Linked DNA regions of Homo sapiens: region 2 is linked to region 1. The links come from fine-mapping of genetic effects on gene expression. Tissue or cell type: hypothalamus. Region 1 holds a variant in brackets; the other region holds the start of a gene. All regions are shown on one strand. Distances are between the middles of the regions.

What was found. PIP is the estimated chance that this variant, and not a neighbour inherited with it, causes the effect.
Region 2: it holds the start of SPATA22, and the variant in region 1 is the best candidate, but not a certain one, in a credible set for the expression of SPATA22 in hypothalamus (GTEx, PIP 0.68).

The regions. Positions count from the first base shown.
Region 1 is chr17:3,533,984-3,544,666 of GRCh38, reverse strand. TRPV3 (transient receptor potential cation channel subfamily V member 3) reads left to right here. Exons shown (of 18, transcript NM_145068.4): 4 at 2-88; 5 at 1,039-1,193; 6 at 1,969-2,145; 7 at 8,954-9,094. Among named protein-coding and RNA genes, the nearest start is that of TRPV3, 18 kb to the left of the region's middle. RefSeq lists a silencer at 8,869-8,918. The variant A/G (reference allele first, on the strand shown) is at 5,172.
Region 2 is chr17:3,468,486-3,475,530 of GRCh38, reverse strand. SPATA22 (spermatogenesis associated 22) reads left to right here and starts at 3,712. Exons shown (of 9, transcript NM_001170698.2): 1 at 3,712-3,849; 2 at 6,133-6,248. The coding sequence starts at 6,206. It also overlaps a transcript of ASPA not described here.

The DNA of each region.
Region 1 (10,683 bases):
GCATCTCTGGTAACTGTGATGACATGGACTCCCCCCAGTCTCCTCAGGATGATGTGACAGAGACCCCATCCAATCCCAACAGCCCCAGGTAAGTCTGCCCCTCCCCCTCCACCCACTGTGCCCACCCAGGCTGGGGGTGCCAGAGAGACAGGATCCGGGGCCCTGCAGGAAGGAGAAAGAATCCACCATTCCTGGGGATTGGGACAAGTGGAGTCATGGGTCCATGGCATGTAGGACGTTTACGGGGAAGGAGTGGAGTATTGAATTCTATAAAACCCATTTGTTATGAAACATTCAAACAGCAGGATGCAGTGGAAAAAGAACTGTAGCACGACACCATTTATGTGAACTAAAAATACATAGCCAGGTGCAGGGCTCATACCTGTCATCCCAGCACTTTGGGAGGCTGCGGCAGGAGGATCACGAGGTCAGGAGTTCAAGACAAGCCTGACCAACATGGTGAAACCCCGTCTCTACTAAAAATACAAAACTTAGCCGGGCGTGGTGGCGCATGCCTGTAATCCCAGCTACTGAGGAGGCTGAGGCAGGAGAATTGCTTGCACCCTGGAGGTGGAGGTTGTAGTGAGCTGAGATTGTGTCACTGTACTCCAGCCTGGGTGACAGAGCAAGACTCTGTCTCAAATAAAAAAAAGAAAAAAGAAACAAAAGGAGACATCAACGCGTTACCATGGTTGCTTATCTGGAGTGGGAGGACAGGGAAGGATAGATTTTAAAAGTTCAAACAACATAAAATATGAAATCTTATATTTTCAAGGTAATGTCTTTAATAGGCATAGATCCTTCCTGATCATTACTTCATGCATCCAAATGTAGGTATTTTGACAAAATGTGATTGCATATGGATTACAAGGGGAGCCTGATGGGTCCACACAGAGCCCAGGAGTTTGCAGGCATTGTGACAGGCATGGGAGATGTTGGCGGCAGCTGCAGCGCCCCGTAGGCAGCTCTGGCGGGGAAAAGGAGAGATTGAGCTTGAGAGGATGTGTGTGTTGAGTTGGAAACATTTTCTGGCTTCAGTGCACAGCTGGCCAAGGAAGAGCAGAGGAGGAAAAAGAGGCGGCTGAAGAAGCGCATCTTTGCAGCCGTGTCTGAGGGCTGCGTGGAGGAGTTGGTAGAGTTGCTGGTGGAGCTGCAGGAGCTTTGCAGGCGGCGCCATGATGAGGATGTGCCTGGTGAGTGTCTGAGCCTGGCAGAGGGTGCAGGGCTGGGGGCCCTGCTTGGCTTCTGGTGCCCATTTTCCCCTCCCCTCACCAACCCATGAGGCTGGAGTGTGAGGGGCCTTGAATTCTGGCTAGGGACTTTGAACTTGACTCCGAGGAGAATGGGGAACCACAGAAGGGTTTGGGCAGGTGAGAGTCGGGTCTGACTACTGTGTGGAAGATGGGGGTGAAGCTGGAGAAGGCCACTGTTCAGGCAGGGCTGGGACCCTGAAGCAGGGCTTGAGAAGGGAACGGTTCTGAGCAGCTCCTCGGCCAGTAGCATTGGCAGGATTTGAGGACCTGGGGAGTGAGGGACGGGGGGTCCAGCATGGTGCCATTTAGACTTGGGTAGCTTGGTGGCTGGTGGAGCCCTGGGTGTCTCGGGGACCAGTGCAGTATCAGGTTGATGGGGAGGCCATGAGCTTTATTTGCAGGCCACGAGGAGGGGGCAGGCTGGAGACAGATTCCAGGGTGGCAGCAGGGGGGTGGACAGCGGGAAGCCATACAGTGGGCAAAGAGCAAAAGGCCTCAGATACGTCACCCATGGGCCACAGAGAGCAAGGAGCCAGCATAGGAGACGGAGGAGAAACAGCTGGAGAGGGAGGAGAGCGGCCAAGTGTAAGGTCTGGGAGTGGAGATGTGGAGCAGGGGCTTGGGGTCTGCGGCTGCAGCAACCACACCCTCTGGGCTGGGAGGGCCAAGGGCAGCCGGGGCCCTCCTGTAACTCCACCCATGGCCCTGCCTGCAGACTTCCTCATGCACAAGCTGACGGCCTCCGACACGGGGAAGACCTGCCTGATGAAGGCCTTGTTAAACATCAACCCCAACACCAAGGAGATAGTGCGGATCCTGCTTGCCTTTGCTGAAGAGAACGACATCCTGGGCAGGTTCATCAACGCCGAGTACACAGAGGAGGCCTATGAAGGTATCCTGCCTGCAGAGGGGCTGTGCAGACAGGAGTCTCTGAGGGTGGGGTATGGGGCCACAGGGCCACTGCTGGCCAGGCCACGTGGAGGCACTGCTGCCATTGAGGAGCCCCAAGCATGTAGCATGGTACCAGGGATGCTTCAGGCAACCCTCTCTTTCTTCCTTCATTCTGCAAATAATTTTGAGCACTGGTTCCATGCCAGGCATTGTTTTTGGCATGGGCATGCACTGGTGAACAAGACAGGTTAAAGCCACTGCTCTAAGGCCGGGCGTGGTGGCTCACGCCTGGAATCCCAGCACTTTGGGAGGCTGAGGCGGGTGGATCACCTGAGGTCCGGAGTTCAAGACCAGCCTGACCAACATGGTGAAACCCCGTCTCTACTAAAAATACAAAAATCAGCCGGGCATGGTGGCAGGTGCCTGTAATCCCAGCTACTTGGGAGGCTGAGGCAGGAGAATCACCTGAACCCAGGAGGCGGAGGTTGCAGTGAGCCGAGATCGCCATTGCACTCCAGCCTAGTGACAGAGCGGGACTCCATCTCAAAATAAATAAATAAGTAAAGACAGAAAGAAAAAGAAACAAAGAAAAGAAAGAAAGTCACTGCTCTAAATAAGATAATTTTAGATTTAAAATATTACGAAAATAAATGAAGATAGTGTGACAGAAAGTGACTGGGGGAGGGCAACTTTAGAGTGGACAGTCAGAGTGGTCATCTTTGGCCTGAGGCCGACATGATGAGAAGGATCAGGGCGAAAGCCCCAAGATGGGATTGAGCTTGGCATGGTTGAGCAATGAAAAGAAGGCTGGAAGTGAGGCAAGAGAGCCGGGCAGGGGCCACCAAAAGTCGACTGTTGTCATCATCATCATCATCATTAACTGTCCCCATTTGGGTCTCAGTTTTGTGGATTTCTTTGTAAGTGGGCCAGAGAGGATGCTGGGAGAGCAAATTTGGGAGAGTGGCTCCCTCCCAGGAAATCCACAGGGGAAAATCAGTAAGATGTGTCTTTATTTGAGTTTTGGAGTCAGTCAACAGCGCTTTACGGTCTTATGAGGTGCTCGTGGCAAAAGCGATTGACTCAATTATAATTGGATGCCGTCTTGCTGATATGCTGGGGGCACTAGATGTTTGAGCTTTTTTGTTTTTGTTTTTTGACATGGAGTCTCGCTCTGTTGCCTAGGCTGGAGTGCAGTGGCGCGATCTTGGCTCACTGCAACCTCTGCCTCCCAGGTTCAAGCGATTCTCCTGCCTCAGCCTCCCAAGTAACTGGGATTACAGGCACCTGCCACCATGCCTGGCTAATTTTTTTGGATTTTTAGTAGAGACGGGGTTTCACCATTTTGGCCAGGCTGGTCTCAAACTCCCAACCTCAGGTGATCCACCTGCCTTCACCTCCCAAAGTGCTGGGATTCCAGGCGTGAGCCACCACGCCCTGCCACAATTTAGGTTTTTCCAGGTGGGAGTTTAGCTTTGGCCTTTAACCCTTCTCATGGGAGAAAGTAATTGTGATTTATTATTTGAACTCTGCAGACTTTCAAAAGCATTTTTGTTATATATAAGAAGAAGTCAAGGATTGTGACAAACTAGAAGATATGGAGTGGAGGAGAGGAAACCTAGGGAAGACTGTTGCAACTGAGTGCTAAACTGCTCACTGAGCTCCCTGGTAGCCAATGCAAAGAGAGAAACTGGATGAACCATATCACATTCTCAGCCTGTCTCTAAGGAGTTGACAGTAGTCCTGCAGACAGGGAGGTTCAGGCCAGTGCCTCAAGCTTGCTTGTCCTAATTTTCCCTTTTCAGTCCCCTTTGTATCCTCCTTTCTTCTTGTCAGTATTGTAGGACTTACGAACTACCCTTTGCTAGCAACATGTTTCCCTTGAGGGCAGGGATGAAGTCTGTTGCTTACAGTTCATTTCCCAGTACCCTTAGGGTCTCACCTAAGAGACGCTTAGTACATATTTTTTGGATGAGTGAATGAAAGAAGGTTGTTAGTGTTTCTGTGAAGACTTTGCTGTCCCGGTCACAGATCCTTACCTCTCCCTGTTCTTAGCCTCCCCTTTCCCTCTCCTTTCATGAATCTGCCTCTTGCTGGGGCGAGGAGGTCTGGGAGGCTGTGGGCACCTCCTCTTTCTCTGAATGGTGGGAGGAGCTATTTATTCTTGTCTTCCTGGAAACCAACCCCACCACCGTTCTGACCCATCCGCTGGTGCCTTCCTTCCTCTTAGCATTTCCTCCACCCGGAGCAGAGGGGCTCCAGGACCAGCAGAGTAGCATTCTTCCACACTCTGGGCAGGACCCAAGGTGACCACTCTGATTGTCCACTCTAAAGTTTCCCTTCCCCAGTCACTTTCTGTCACCCTATCTTCATTTATTTTCATAGCATTTTTTTGTATCTAAAATAACCTTATTTAGAGCAATGACTTTGTTTATTTATTTATTTATTTATTTATTTATTTATTTTTTGAGATGGAGTTCCGCTGTGTCACCAGGCTGGAGTGCAGTGGCACAACCTCTGCCTCCCGGGTTCAGGTGATTCTCCTGCCTCAGCATCCCAAGTAGCTGGGACTACAGGCAACTGCCTCACCTCTCTGAGCCTCAGTTTCCCCACTGGGCAAGGGCGAATATTTCCTCCCTATGCTGCTAAGAGGAACCAATCACAACTTTATTCATATCATTTTAAAGCATTTTATCAGAGGCCTTCAGAGTTTTACTTTTTTAAGCAATTCTTCAATTAAGACATTTTTATTATAAAAATTTTAAACATGAAGTTAAGATATTAGAATAATAAACCTCTACACATCCATCATCAGATTCAATATAACAGTTTCTTTTTATTATTTTACTTTATTTTATTTTATTATTGTTTTTGAGACAGGTTCTCACTCTGTTGGGCAGGCTGGAGTGCAGTGGCGCGACCACGACTCGCTGCAGCCTTGACCTCCCTGGGCTCAGGTAATTTTCCCACCTCAGCCTCCCGAGTAGCTGGGACTATAGATGCGTGCCACCCCGCCCAGCTAATTTTTCT[A/G]TTTGTTGCAGGGATAGGGTTTCACCATGTTGCCCAGGCTGGTCTGTAACTCCGGGGCTCAAGCAATCCTCCCGCCTCTGCCTCTCAATGATGGGATTATAGGCGTGAGCCACCGCACCCAGCCTAACAACATCCACGTCACATGAATAGAGTTTCATTGTAAAGCAGCCCAGCATTTTACATACTTTTTTTTTTTTTAAGTCCTTTACCCATATACTTTGTGGAGTTTTCTAGGCCTTTGACATTTGTGTGTGTATATGTGCACACAGAAAAAGTTTTATTTATTTAACATAAAATATTATCATACTGTCTGTATTCTACAAGTTGGTTTTTTTGATTAACTATTAACCATATGTCTTGGAGCACTTCTTATGCCAAAATATGAAAGTCTAGCTTCTTTTCACCAGATTCGTCTGCAATTGCGGCTGCACCTTGGCTAATTTCACCACTCCCCCACTGACAGACAGTCAGGTGTTTCCAGCTGTGTTGTGACAATGTCACAGTGCACGATCTTGTCTATGACCCTGTGCACAGGTGCACATATGTTTCAGAAAATATTTTGAATTGGAATATCTGGGTTCAACCGCATGCATATTTAAAGTTATAATAGTGGCCAGGCGCAGTGGCTCATGCCTGTAATCCCAGCACTTTGGGAGGCCAAGGCAGGTGGATCACTTGAGGTCAGGAGTTCCAGACCAGCCTAGCCAACATGGTGAAAACCCATCTCTACTAAAAATACAAAAACTAGTAGGGCGTGGTGGGGCACGCTTGTAATCCCAGCTACTTGGGAGGCTGGGGCAGGAGGATCACTTGAACCTGGGAGGCGGAGGTTGCAGTGAGCCGAGATCGCGCCACTGCACTCCAGCCTGGGCAACAGAGGGAGACTCCATCTCAAAAAAAAAAATTTTTTTTTAAATAAATAAAATAAAGTTATAATAGTTATTGCCAAATTTGTCTCTAAAAGATACTCATTTACTCTCTCCCCACAACGGTGTACAGAAATACTCATTCTCCTACTTATCACTAACACTGCAAATTATCCTTTTTTTTTTTTTTTTGTTCTTTTCCAGTCTGGTGGGTGAAAAGGGTTAACTCTTTAGGTTCTAATTTTCATTTTCCTGACCACCAGTGATTCCAAACATCTTTCACTTTGTTTATTCACTGTGTGTATTTTCTCCTCTGTGAGGTGCTTGTTTATAATCTTTTCTCAGTTTTCTTTTAGACTGTTTGTCTTTCTATTGATTCATAGGCGCTTGTAATATATTATAGACTTTTAAAAACACAATGCCTTTCTATTTTTTTTTTGAGACGGGGTCTTGCTCTATTGCCCAGGCTGGAGTGCAGTGGCATGCTCACTGCAAGCTCCACCTCCCGGGTTCACACCATTCTCCTGCCTCAGCCTCCCGAGTAGCTGGGACTACAGGCACTCACCATCACGCCCGCCTAATTTTTTGTATTTTTAGTAGAGACAGAGTTTCACCAGGTTAGCCAGGATGGTCTCGATCTCCTGACCTCGTGATCTGCCCGCCTCAGCCTCCCAAAGTGCTGGGATTACAGGTGTGAGCCACCGTGCCTGGCATGCCTTTTTTTTTTTTTTTTTTTTAAAAAGACAGAGTCTTGCTCTCTAGCCCAGGCTGGAGTACAGTGGCGCGATCTCTGCCTCCTGAGTTCAAGTGATTCTCCTGCTTCAACCTCCTGAGTAGCTGGGACTACAGGTGCCCGCCACCACACTTGGCTAATTTTTTTGTATTTTCAGTAGAGATGGGGTTTCTCCATGTGGGCCAGGCTGGTCTCGAACTCCTGACCTCAAGTGATCCACCCGCCTCGGCTTCCCAAAGTGCTGGGATTACAGGTGTGAGCTACCGCGCCCGGCCCTAAAACACATTGCCTTTTTATATATCTCAAATATTTTCCCCAGCCTATCACTTGTCTTTAACTTTCATTAGGATGCATTCGGAAATACAGAAATCTCCGAGGTAGGGGGATTGCTTGAGCCCAGGAATTCAAGACCAGCCTGGGCAACACAGCAAGATCCTGTCTCTACAAAAAATTTTAAAAATAAGCCGGGAGTGGTGGTGCAGGCCTGTAGTCCACACGTGTGTGTGTATATATGTACACAGAAATAGTTTTATTTACTTATCTAACATAAAATAGGACCATCACGTCTGTATTCTACAAGTTGCTTTGTTTGATTAACTGTATGTCTTAGAGCATTTCTTATGCCAAATATGAAAGTCTAGCTTTTGGGGGGCTGAGACAGGAGGATCGTTTGAGCCCAGGAGTTCAAGGTTGCAGTGAGCTATGCTCACGCCACTGCACTCCAGCCTGGGTGACACAGCAAGATCCTATGTCAAACATACAAACAAACAAACAAAAAACCAAAAACCCCCAAAACCAAAAACCTTTATGTAAGCAAATATGTCAGCCTTTTCTTTATGGTTTCTGCCTTTTGGATCCTGCTTAAGAAGGTCTTCCCTACCAAAAGGTTAGCTATAAACAAACTTTCTAATGTGTCTTAAAGCTTGGTTCTTTAATCCACCAAGACTATGTTTGTTTATGACACAGCGGCAGCTCTTTGGAAACTGCTGTTTCTGTTGGTGCATTTCGAGACCCTTCCCCCACTCCAGCCTTCTGGTCCCTTCCATCTGGAAGTTCTCTGGTCTCCAGCAGGCTTAGTGTCTCTCCCGCTACCCTTCTTTCCTCTTGCTGTGTCACCAGCGTATCATTCACCCACCGCCAGGGCTGAATACCTAGATCTTACCTGAGACACCCTTCTTCCCAGCCGGGCATCCTGAAGGCTCTTTCTCCAGAGGGTCTTTGGGCTTCCTCCTTTCTCCACCCTTCATGTGCCCTCCAACTCCCCTTAGTCCAGGCCTCATCATTTTTTTGTTTGTTTGTTTGTTTTTTGAGATGGAGTTTCACTCTTCTTGCCCAGGCTGGAGTGCAATGGACCAATCTCGGCTCACTGCAACCTCTGCCTCCTGGGTTCAAGCGATTCTCCTGCCTCAGCCTCCCAAGTAGCTGGGATTACAGGCATGCGCCCCCACGGCCGGCTAATTTTGTATTTTTAGTACAGACCATGTTTCACCATGTTGGTCAGGCTGCTCTCGAACTCCTGACCTCAGGTGATCCACCTGCTTTGGCCTCCCAGTGTGCTGGGATTACAGGCCTCATCATTTCCTTCACTGGTCTCGGCTGCTTCTAACGCATCCTCCACTTTTGCAGCCAGAGAGGTCTGAAAACACCCATGCACCGAGCCCTACATTCTCGTCCTGCCAGTTTCCTAATTCAAGGCCGTCTGTGACTCTGGCCCTTAGCACAAGCTCTGCCCTCTTGCCCTGGCTGATGAGCTGGCCCCACACCGCCTCGCTAAACTTCTGAGGTCCCAGGTTAGAGAGCTCTGGGAAGCCCCCTGACGCTCTCTGGCTGTGAAGGGCCCTTGCTCTGGGTACCGCAGCTCCTGCACCCCTCTGAATCGTAGCACCTCGTTCTCAGTGACACTGCGGGCTTCTTGAGGAAAATAATCGAGATTGCGTCTTGGGCACCCACTGACCCCCAGCGCCTGGGGCCGGAGCCCGGAGCAGGCGCTCCACAAACATTTCTTGGGTCCGCGCAGGCATGAAGGAAGCAAAGAACAAAGCTGGGATTCCTGGTAGCTGGCGACACAGACCAGGGTTCTGATCTCCCCGTGGGTTCGGGGAGGGTATGGAGGCCAGAGCGGGTGGGCAAGAGGCCCCTGTGCCCGGCGCTGAGGCTCCCGCGCGTCCCCGCCCGCTCCGCAGGGCAGACGGCGCTGAACATCGCCATCGAGCGGCGGCAGGGGGACATCGCAGCCCTGCTCATCGCCGCCGGCGCCGACGTCAACGCGCACGCCAAGGGGGCCTTCTTCAACCCCAAGTACCAACACGAAGGCTTCTACTTCGGTGGGTGCCGCCCCCGCCCGGTGCGGAGTCTGGGAGGAGGGAGGAGGGAGACGGGAGAGGAAGGGAGGGAAGGGGAAGGAGGGAAGAAGGGAGGAGGGGGGAAGAAAGAGGGAAGGAGGAAGGAAGTGAGGAGGGAGAGGGAGGAAGGGAGGGGGAAACAGGAAGGAGAGAGGAGGGAGAGGGAGGAGGGAGGAAGGAAGCAGGAAGGATGAGGGAGGAAGGAAGGGAGGAGGGAGAGGAAGGAAGGGAGGAGGGAGAAAGGAAGAGGGAAGCAGGAAGGAGGGAGGAAGGGAGGAGGGAGGAGGGAGAGGGAGGAGGAGTAAGGAGGGGGAGGGAGGGAGGAGGGAGGCAGGAGACAGAAGGGAGAAGGAGGAGGGAGAGGGAGGAAGGGAGGAGGAAGGAGGGCGGAGGGAGAGAAAGGAAGGAAGGAGGGAGGAAGGGAGGGGCCACCCCGCTTTGAGCTCCACCCACACTGTCCCTGCCTTAAGAAGCTCTGGTGCCCCAGAGGGGCAGGAGGGGAGGAGGCTGGGCATGTCCATCTGAGCAGGACACCAGGGTGGACCAGAGAAGGAGGGGCTGGGAGGAGGTGTTGGGGGAGGAGTCCATGTTCCGGTGGTGTCACCTGGTGGTCTTAGAAGCATTGTCCTGGGTAGCTCTCTGAGGGAACAGAGACCTGGGAGGGAGGCTGAGGAGGCAGCCCCATTTTACAGGCGAGGAGATGGCTCTGTGAAGGGAAAGGACTTGCCCCAGGGTAGCAGGGCATTGACTTAGGTGTCCTGGCCTCCAGCTCTGACCTCTGTGCCAGGGCCCAGTGCATCTCAGGACTGCAGACAGGGAGTCGAGAGTGAGAGGGCAGAACTCCCCTGCCTCACAAGTCACAGAGTCCAGAAGCAATTGGGGTTAGGATGCTCTAGGAAAAAAAAAAAAAATTGAAATGCATAATTTAGATATAGTGAAAGTCACCCGTGTTAGAGGACAGTTCTGTTCATTTTCACAGTGCGTCGAGTTGGTTCACCACCACTGCAGTCAGAACAGGGAACAAATGGCTCCGTCACACACAAAAATTTCTCTGTGTAACTTTGTTGCAGAGGAGACCCCTCCTGCCACCCAGTCTTGCCTGACTGATGATCACCCATCTGTTTTCTCTTCTGGGTGTTATTTTTTTTATTTTTATTTTTTTAATGGAGTCTCACTCTGTTGCCCAGGCTGCTGGAGTGCAGTGGTGCCATCTGGCTCACTGCAGCCTCTGCCTCCTGGGTTCAAGCGATTCTCATGCTGCAGCCTCCTGAGTAGCTGGGACTATCTTCTGGGTGGTTTTTTAATCAGCAGGACTAGCTAGTCTGTGCTCTGGGCAGCCCTGCGTGTCCAGGTGTGGGTGTCCTGGAAAACGGGGTCTTGTCCAGTTCATCGTGTGTCCCCATTGCCCTGCATAGGAGCTGGTTGGACCTGGTGTTGGGAAGCATTTGTTGGGTGGGGCGAGGAGAGGGGAGGCAGCTGAAGACCTGGTGTCCGGAGCTGGTCGTGTCCCAGGCTTGCTGTGTGACCTCATGTGAGTCACTTGCCTTATTTTTTCTTAACAAGCATTTATT
Region 2 (7,045 bases), 67 kb after region 1:
TCAATGATCACTTGGGACTCGAAAAGCTACCCTGAAACATCCCTTCATTTCTTTCTCATGAGGTTTTTGGTAATTCTGTGTTAACTTACTTATGAATCTTCCTCATTTTTTGCCTAAATACCAAAGGAAAGACAACTGTTAGTACTTTTCAAGTTTTTGTGATGCCTGAAAATGTCTTGGGACACACTGCATGTGCTAACCACATCATGTGAACTTACATAGACACAGCCTTATTCACTGTCAGCGGGGACTCTCCACTGGACTGTGTTACTCAAAAAGGGGTCTTATTAGGGGAAATTTTCCAGAATACTAAGATGATTACATCCCTTTGGAGAAATGACTCTGAGCCAAATCTGATTTGATTTCATGCTCAGTCACCCAGAAAGTCACATATGTTCAAGTACTGGGAATACCATGTACTAGTAACGCCAGGTTGTTTGATAGAGGGTACAATAAGAGTAATTTATTACAATTGCAGAGTTTAATTTATAATGTCCTTTCACTCAGTTTATTCATACATTAATTTTATACGATAGGGTGGGTTAGGTGTTGACATCCCCACTGCAGGGGTAAACGAAAGAGAGGTTAAGTAACTCAGTTAAGGTTCTGCAGGGATGTAGGAGAACCTAGGCCTGAGACCCATGTTTCTCATCCCAAGTCTAGTGTTTTTCACAGGACAATAGGGTGCCTCTCTGTTATTTTTGGTCTTCTTCACAGTTCTAGTTTTGCTCTTTCAGAATTCACATAAACAGCCATTACAGTGTGCTCAGGAAACAAACATGCATACAAACCAAATACATGGTGGAAAAATAAAATATGAATGCTTCCTAATATTTAATAAACCCACTGAATGTTCTTCCTTTAAGAGCTTATAATGCAGAGATAGAGAAAGCAAAATAACCACATCAAATCTATGCATTAAAATGACTGTTCTAATAGAAAAAAAAAGCTCCTGTAGGCTTTGACTGTCTGTCCACATCCATGTACACTGAACACTTCAGACGGTGTAGAGATGATGAAAACACACGTAAAAGTAAACAGATGACAGTTGTTTAGTTGCTTTGGTTTTAAGAGCAGTAACCATGGTGAATTATTAACACTCTACTATGCTTGGTTTCTTTTCTGCTGATTTGTAGTTTGTTCTGTCCTTTGCCCTAGTCTCTCTGGAAATGCTGCTTCAGTTATTTACTCGTAGCTGGCACAAATGACTTGCATTTTGAAGCTTGTTTTATGGAATTTTAACAGATCAGCACTTTGAAGCACATTTCACATTCATAAATAAAGTTTCTCTTACATGTCAAAATGAATAACTTTTTTGAGAGTTAATGAATTGCAGCAATTATTTCCCATACTTACCTTGTTTTTTGTGTACAGAGTTTGTCTTCTGTGGAAAGCTTTATTAGGAAAAAGGAGAGCATTTCCTCAGAAGTAGAGCAACAGAGGCTTTTCATACTCTTATACCAAGTTAACTTCCGAAAGATTTTTAACTCCCTGTTTCCCAAAGTGTACTTGATTTTTGGGATGACCCAAAAAACCACACTTTTTTATTAGTTCTCAGCGAACTGATAGTATACGAAGTGAAACCCTTTCGAATTGTCACTATCTCATTATTAAGTTGAATATATAATATTCTGAAGTACTTAAAAGAGTAAGCATAACTTCCAGCATTACAAATGTTTTGTGGGATAGAGTTGCCTGATGTATTAATAAAATAATGTAGTTTAAAACAAAAGGATGCCAGGTGTGGTCTCATGCTTGTAATCCCAGCACTTTGGGAGGCCGAGGTGGGCGGATCACCTAAGGTCAGGAGTTCGAGACCATCCTGGCCAACATGGTGAAACCCCGTCTCTACTAAAAATACAAAATTACCTGGGCGTGGTGGCGGGTGCCTGTAATCCTAGTTACTCAGGAGGCTGAGGCAGGAGAATCACTTGAACCTAGAAGGCGGAGGTTGCAGTGAGCTGAGATTGTGCCATTGCACTCCAACCTGGGGAACAAGAGCGAAACTCCGTCTCAAAAACAAAACAAAACAAAACAAAAGGAGAGCAGAGTTTTACTTCACAGTCATGGCTGTCCAGTAGATCCCTGCCAGAAATTTTGTAGGAGACAAATTTAAGGTGGGTTGTTTCCCAAATGGTATGACTGGGGGATAAGAAGGGTTTTTTGTTAAATATTATACATAAGATGTCTCATACATAATGTGATGTTCAGTAGTTATGTAATCAAACTACTTTTACTACTTTAGTTTTCTCCTTCCCTGTGATCCATCCTGACCAACTTTCCAGGTGGAAATAAATAAGCAGAAAAAGACAAGTATAAAACAGATTAAGTTTATAAACTGCTAGCAAATATTCTATATTGCTCATGTCTGCAGTCCCTACAGAAGTAATCGGCTTAAGGTGGTTTTTTTTTTTTTTTTTTAATGAAAAATCTATTTTTGGGGTGGGTGGGTGTGTGTTGTAAATGTATGCACATCCGTATGTAGATATCAAGTCAAAATCTGCTTCCCTGAAGCTTCTATTCATGTTTTGGGTAACTCCTCTCTGGAACCATGATAAATAACAAGTTTTATTTTTATTGTTCAAGTCTTCTTCTTCCCAAAATAAAAGATGGCCCTATTCCTTGAAAGCTGTTCCTTACTCTGGCATTCAAGGTCTGCTATTATCTGGTCTCAGTCTACATCTAATATTATTTTCTAACACTCTTCTTTACTTGAGATAGTTTTAAAGCAACTACTAAAATGTCTGTGGTCTTATAGGCCTAGGCCTTTACTAACAATCTTCCTTTCATCTCTAAGCCCTTCCCTATCCCAGTCTTCAAATGGTTAGAAGATACGGTAACAACAAAACATGGGCTTTGAACTCAGACAGCTCTAGAATCCACTACCTGGCCCATAGTAAGTTCCGGATAAATGGCAGCTACTGTTACTCAAATTAAATAAGGGCTAACAGTTACTGGGCATTTACTGTGTGCCAGGATTGTCTATTTCATCTTCTAGTATTTTTAGGGCGATTGTTGTTATTGTTCTTTTACTGGTAGGTCCAGAGGGTGTTCAGTAAGTAACTTGCCCAAGGTCACAGGGCCAGGAATCCACAGTCCTCTTTGCCAGGAAGCCTGGAGCTCAACGCCCAGGGTCGCACACCACGCGGCTTCCCCTGCAGAGCGTCTCTGCGGCTCACGGGCGCTTCCCTCCCGCAAGCTCCCGCAGCCCCGGCGCTGCCTCGCTGACGGCTCTCCGCCTTCCATGGCCGCCATCTGAACCTGGGCTTCAGCTCTGTCCCCAGCCTCCCGGGGACTCAGATTCCCTGACCCTGATCCGACCCAGAAATTGAGCCAGACACCTCGGGTGGCCTTCGAGTCAATCTCTGGGCACACTCTGGGTGGCCACCAGCATCTAACAAACGGATGTCTGGACCCTAAGGGCCAGGGGGTGAGGGGAAGTGGGGCACACTTTTTAGACGATGGTGGGGCTGAGGCCGGTTGGGCAGGAGATCTGCCTCTGTCTCTCCAGTCACAGGACAGTCTCCTTTCCTCTCTGGGCAAAACTCTAAGGAGCTGGAGCCATCCCTGGGTCCACAGTGTGAGAACGCCAAGGAAGAGCGTTAACGTCATCGCGCCCGGCCAAGGGCGGCCAGGCAGGCAGCGAAGATGCCATCGCGCCGAGGTGGCGGCCACTGCGCCTGCGCGGTCCACGGCGCCTGCGAACAGCCTGATTCCCGCGCTTTCTTCGCGGGCGGGAAGGGCGGCGGTTGCTGACGGGGCCGCCTGGACGACGGTTGACGGAGGCGAGGGAAACTGAGGGCGAAAGTTGTGTGTCGTGTTGGCAGGAGGGCCTAGAAGGGAAAGACTGTGCGTTGATACCAAACTGCCCCCACTCCGTGGGCGGGTCAGGAGAGGCCTTTGGAAGAGCGTCTCAACTCGGACTGGAGCCTCTTCTCTCCCACCGCGGTCAGGAGCCAAAACAGGCCGCCATTTGAGGCCGTGGTTTTTGTGGGTGGTGTGTGTGTGTGTGCGTGCAGATTGAGCACACTTTTTGCACACCAATGCCACCAACCCCATTACTAACGCCACTTAGGTCCATTTGGGAGCTGGGATTGGGGGTAAATGAGGGTCCCCGCCCTCAGGATCAATGGTCCCGCGGGTGGAATGTTACACTTAAAAATTTTGTTGTTGTTTATTCTGTTTGTTTGATCCTGAGAAACATAATAGCCCTCGTAAGCCCCTCTAAATATAGGATGTGAGTTGCGCCGGTGGAGAAAGTGGCAGAATCCCTGTTGTGGCTCCTAGGATGGCGCCAAGAATATTTTCCTTTCCTTTCCTTTCCCTTCCTTCCTTCCTTCCCTTCCCTCCCTCCCTTCCTCCCTCTCTCCATTTTTTCCCTAGAGTCTCGCTCTGTCGCCCAGGCTGGAGTGCAGTGGCGTGATCTCGGCTCACTGCAACCTCCGCCTCCCGGGTTCAAGTGATTCTCCTGTCTCAGCCTCCAGGGTAGCTGGGATTACAGGCACGCACCACCATGCCCGGCTAATTTTTGTATTTTTAGTAGAGACGGGGTTTCACGTTGTTGGTCAGGCTGGTCTTGAACTCCCGACCTCAGGTGACCCACTTGCCTTGGCCTCCCGAAGTGCTGGGATCACAGGCATGAGCCACTGCACCTGGCCACCAGGAATATTTTCTAAAGGGTCCATCTCTTCTACCCAGCTTCAAGCCTAAGATGTGGAAACAAAACAGAGGCAGCACCTGACCTCGTGTTTCCCAAGTTGTTTTTTTTTCTTTTTTTTTTGAGACGGAGTCTCGCTCTGTCGCCCAGGCTGGAGTGCAGCGGCACGATCTCCGCTCACTGCAACCTCCGCCTCCCGAGTTCATGCCATTCTCCTGCCTCAGCCTCACGAGTAGCTGGGACCACAGGTGCCTGCCACCACGCCCGGCTAATTTTTTTGTATTTTTTAGTAGAGACGGGGTTTCCCTCTGTTAGCCAGGATGGTCTTGATCTCCTGATCTCGTGATCCGCCCGTCTCGGCCTCCCAAAGTGCTGGGATTACAGGCGTGAGCCACTGCACCCGGCCTGTTTCCCAAGTTTTATTTTTACAAACGATATTTGAAAGTTAACACCTCGGCCTGACTTGCATTATTGCTTAGTTGTGTATGTGTCGGTCTGTCTGTCTCATTGGGTTGTGAATTTGGAACAGAAGTTACCTGGTTTGGGTTTGTATCTTGCCTCTTCTTGCAGTGGGCAAGTGTTCGTTGTATTAGATTGGGGATGAAATGTGTTAAGGGGCTAAACGTGCAAAATTACAAGAGAAATTCTATTGTAAAAGAAGAAAACTAAGGAAAAACTTGTTTCACTTGTTGAAGTTGTGGAAATGGAGTGGAAACTTGTCATTACAATTATTCTAGATATGAAGGGAGGACTTAGTCTTTTTTTTTTTTTTTTTTTTTTGAGATGGAGTCTGGGTCTTGTTGCCCAGGCTGGAGTGCAGTGGCACGATCTCAGCTCACTGCAACCTCGGCCTCTCGGGCTCAAGCGATTCTCCTGCCTCGGCCTCCCGAGTAGCTGGGATTACAGGCGCCCGCCACCACTCCTGGCTAATTTTGTATTTTTAGTAGAGATGGGCTTTTGCCATGTTGGCCAGGCTGGTCTTGAACTCCTGACCTCAGGAAGACTTAGTCTTTGATATTATATAATCCAGGCATTTCAAACTGATGCAAAGGCAGATGTCCTGCACAATGCCTTAAAGTGGGGCATGGAGGAAGTTCCCGGTGGCTAAATACTGTGTTTCCTCCTTGGCCTTGGAAGCATGTACGTTTGCCAACGCTGTGGTCCATTTTCCTCTTTGTAGGTGTGGTTCAGAATTCTCTTTGTGGGTGCGGGATTCTGAAATAAATTACATATACTGTGTGAAAAAATGCACATATGTTTACGAAGCAAGGTTACAGTTGCCCTAGTCATAACTTAATTTGAACAGGGTTGGAAAAGTGGATTATGGTGTAAACTCTTAGAAAGCAAAGGACTCCCTAAAGTGTTTACGTGATCAGGTTTGAAAGTAGTTTACAACCATAATTTCAGTAATCACTGGGCTGAGGATTGGGTTTTATAGTTGAGACAATACGAGTTATAAGTTTCTTTCTTTGCAGGTCTAGTGGGACAATGTCATATTATAAATTTGGAATGCTGAATAGAAAATTATAGATTTTGATATTGAAGGAAATGAAGCGAAGCCTAAATGAAAATTCAGCTCGAAGTACAGCAGGTATTGAACAACTTTTTATTTTTAAATTTTCTGTATAGCATATAAAGCTTGTATAGTTTATAGATATAACATTGGAAATAAATTTAAAATAGATTGAACAGTTAATCTAGCCTCTTTACTTTTTAGGTCCAAGGAAGTAAAATAACTTACTCAAGACAAAACATTTAGTGGTAGAGGTGGGAGTAAGATCAAAGTTTCTTAGATTTATTTTGATATTCTTTCTACAAATTCGATGTGCTTGAGTTATTCTATGCTTTAAAACTGAAAACAAAGAAATAGATCTATTTTTGTTTGTATTTGTGACTTACTTGTTAAAAATATTTCCGGAAGCACTTCTGTCTTTCTAATAGCTTCTCCTATCATTTTTGCTTTCCCAATTTATTAGTATAAAGACAGATGGCAAGGATGATGAGAACCAGGGGAATGATGATGCATAATGAAGATAATAGTAACTATTATTTATGGTGGATTAACTGTATTCAAGACATTAATTATATATATTAATTTATTTAATCTTTACACCAATACCCTGAGATAGGTTATTATAATCATTTCTGTTGTTCAGATGAGAAAAACAAGGCTAAAAGAGGTTAAATAAGTAATCCATGAAGTAGCAGAATCAGAATTTGAACCTAGGAATCTGGCTCTTAGTCCATGCTCTTAATCATTATGCTATCAGTATATGTCATATTGGCACAAAGAGTTTAGGGAAATTGCCCAAGATCATACTCTGAAATTGTAATTCAAACCTACTTTGAAGTCATAATTCAAGACCTAGGCGGTCTGATTCCAGAGCC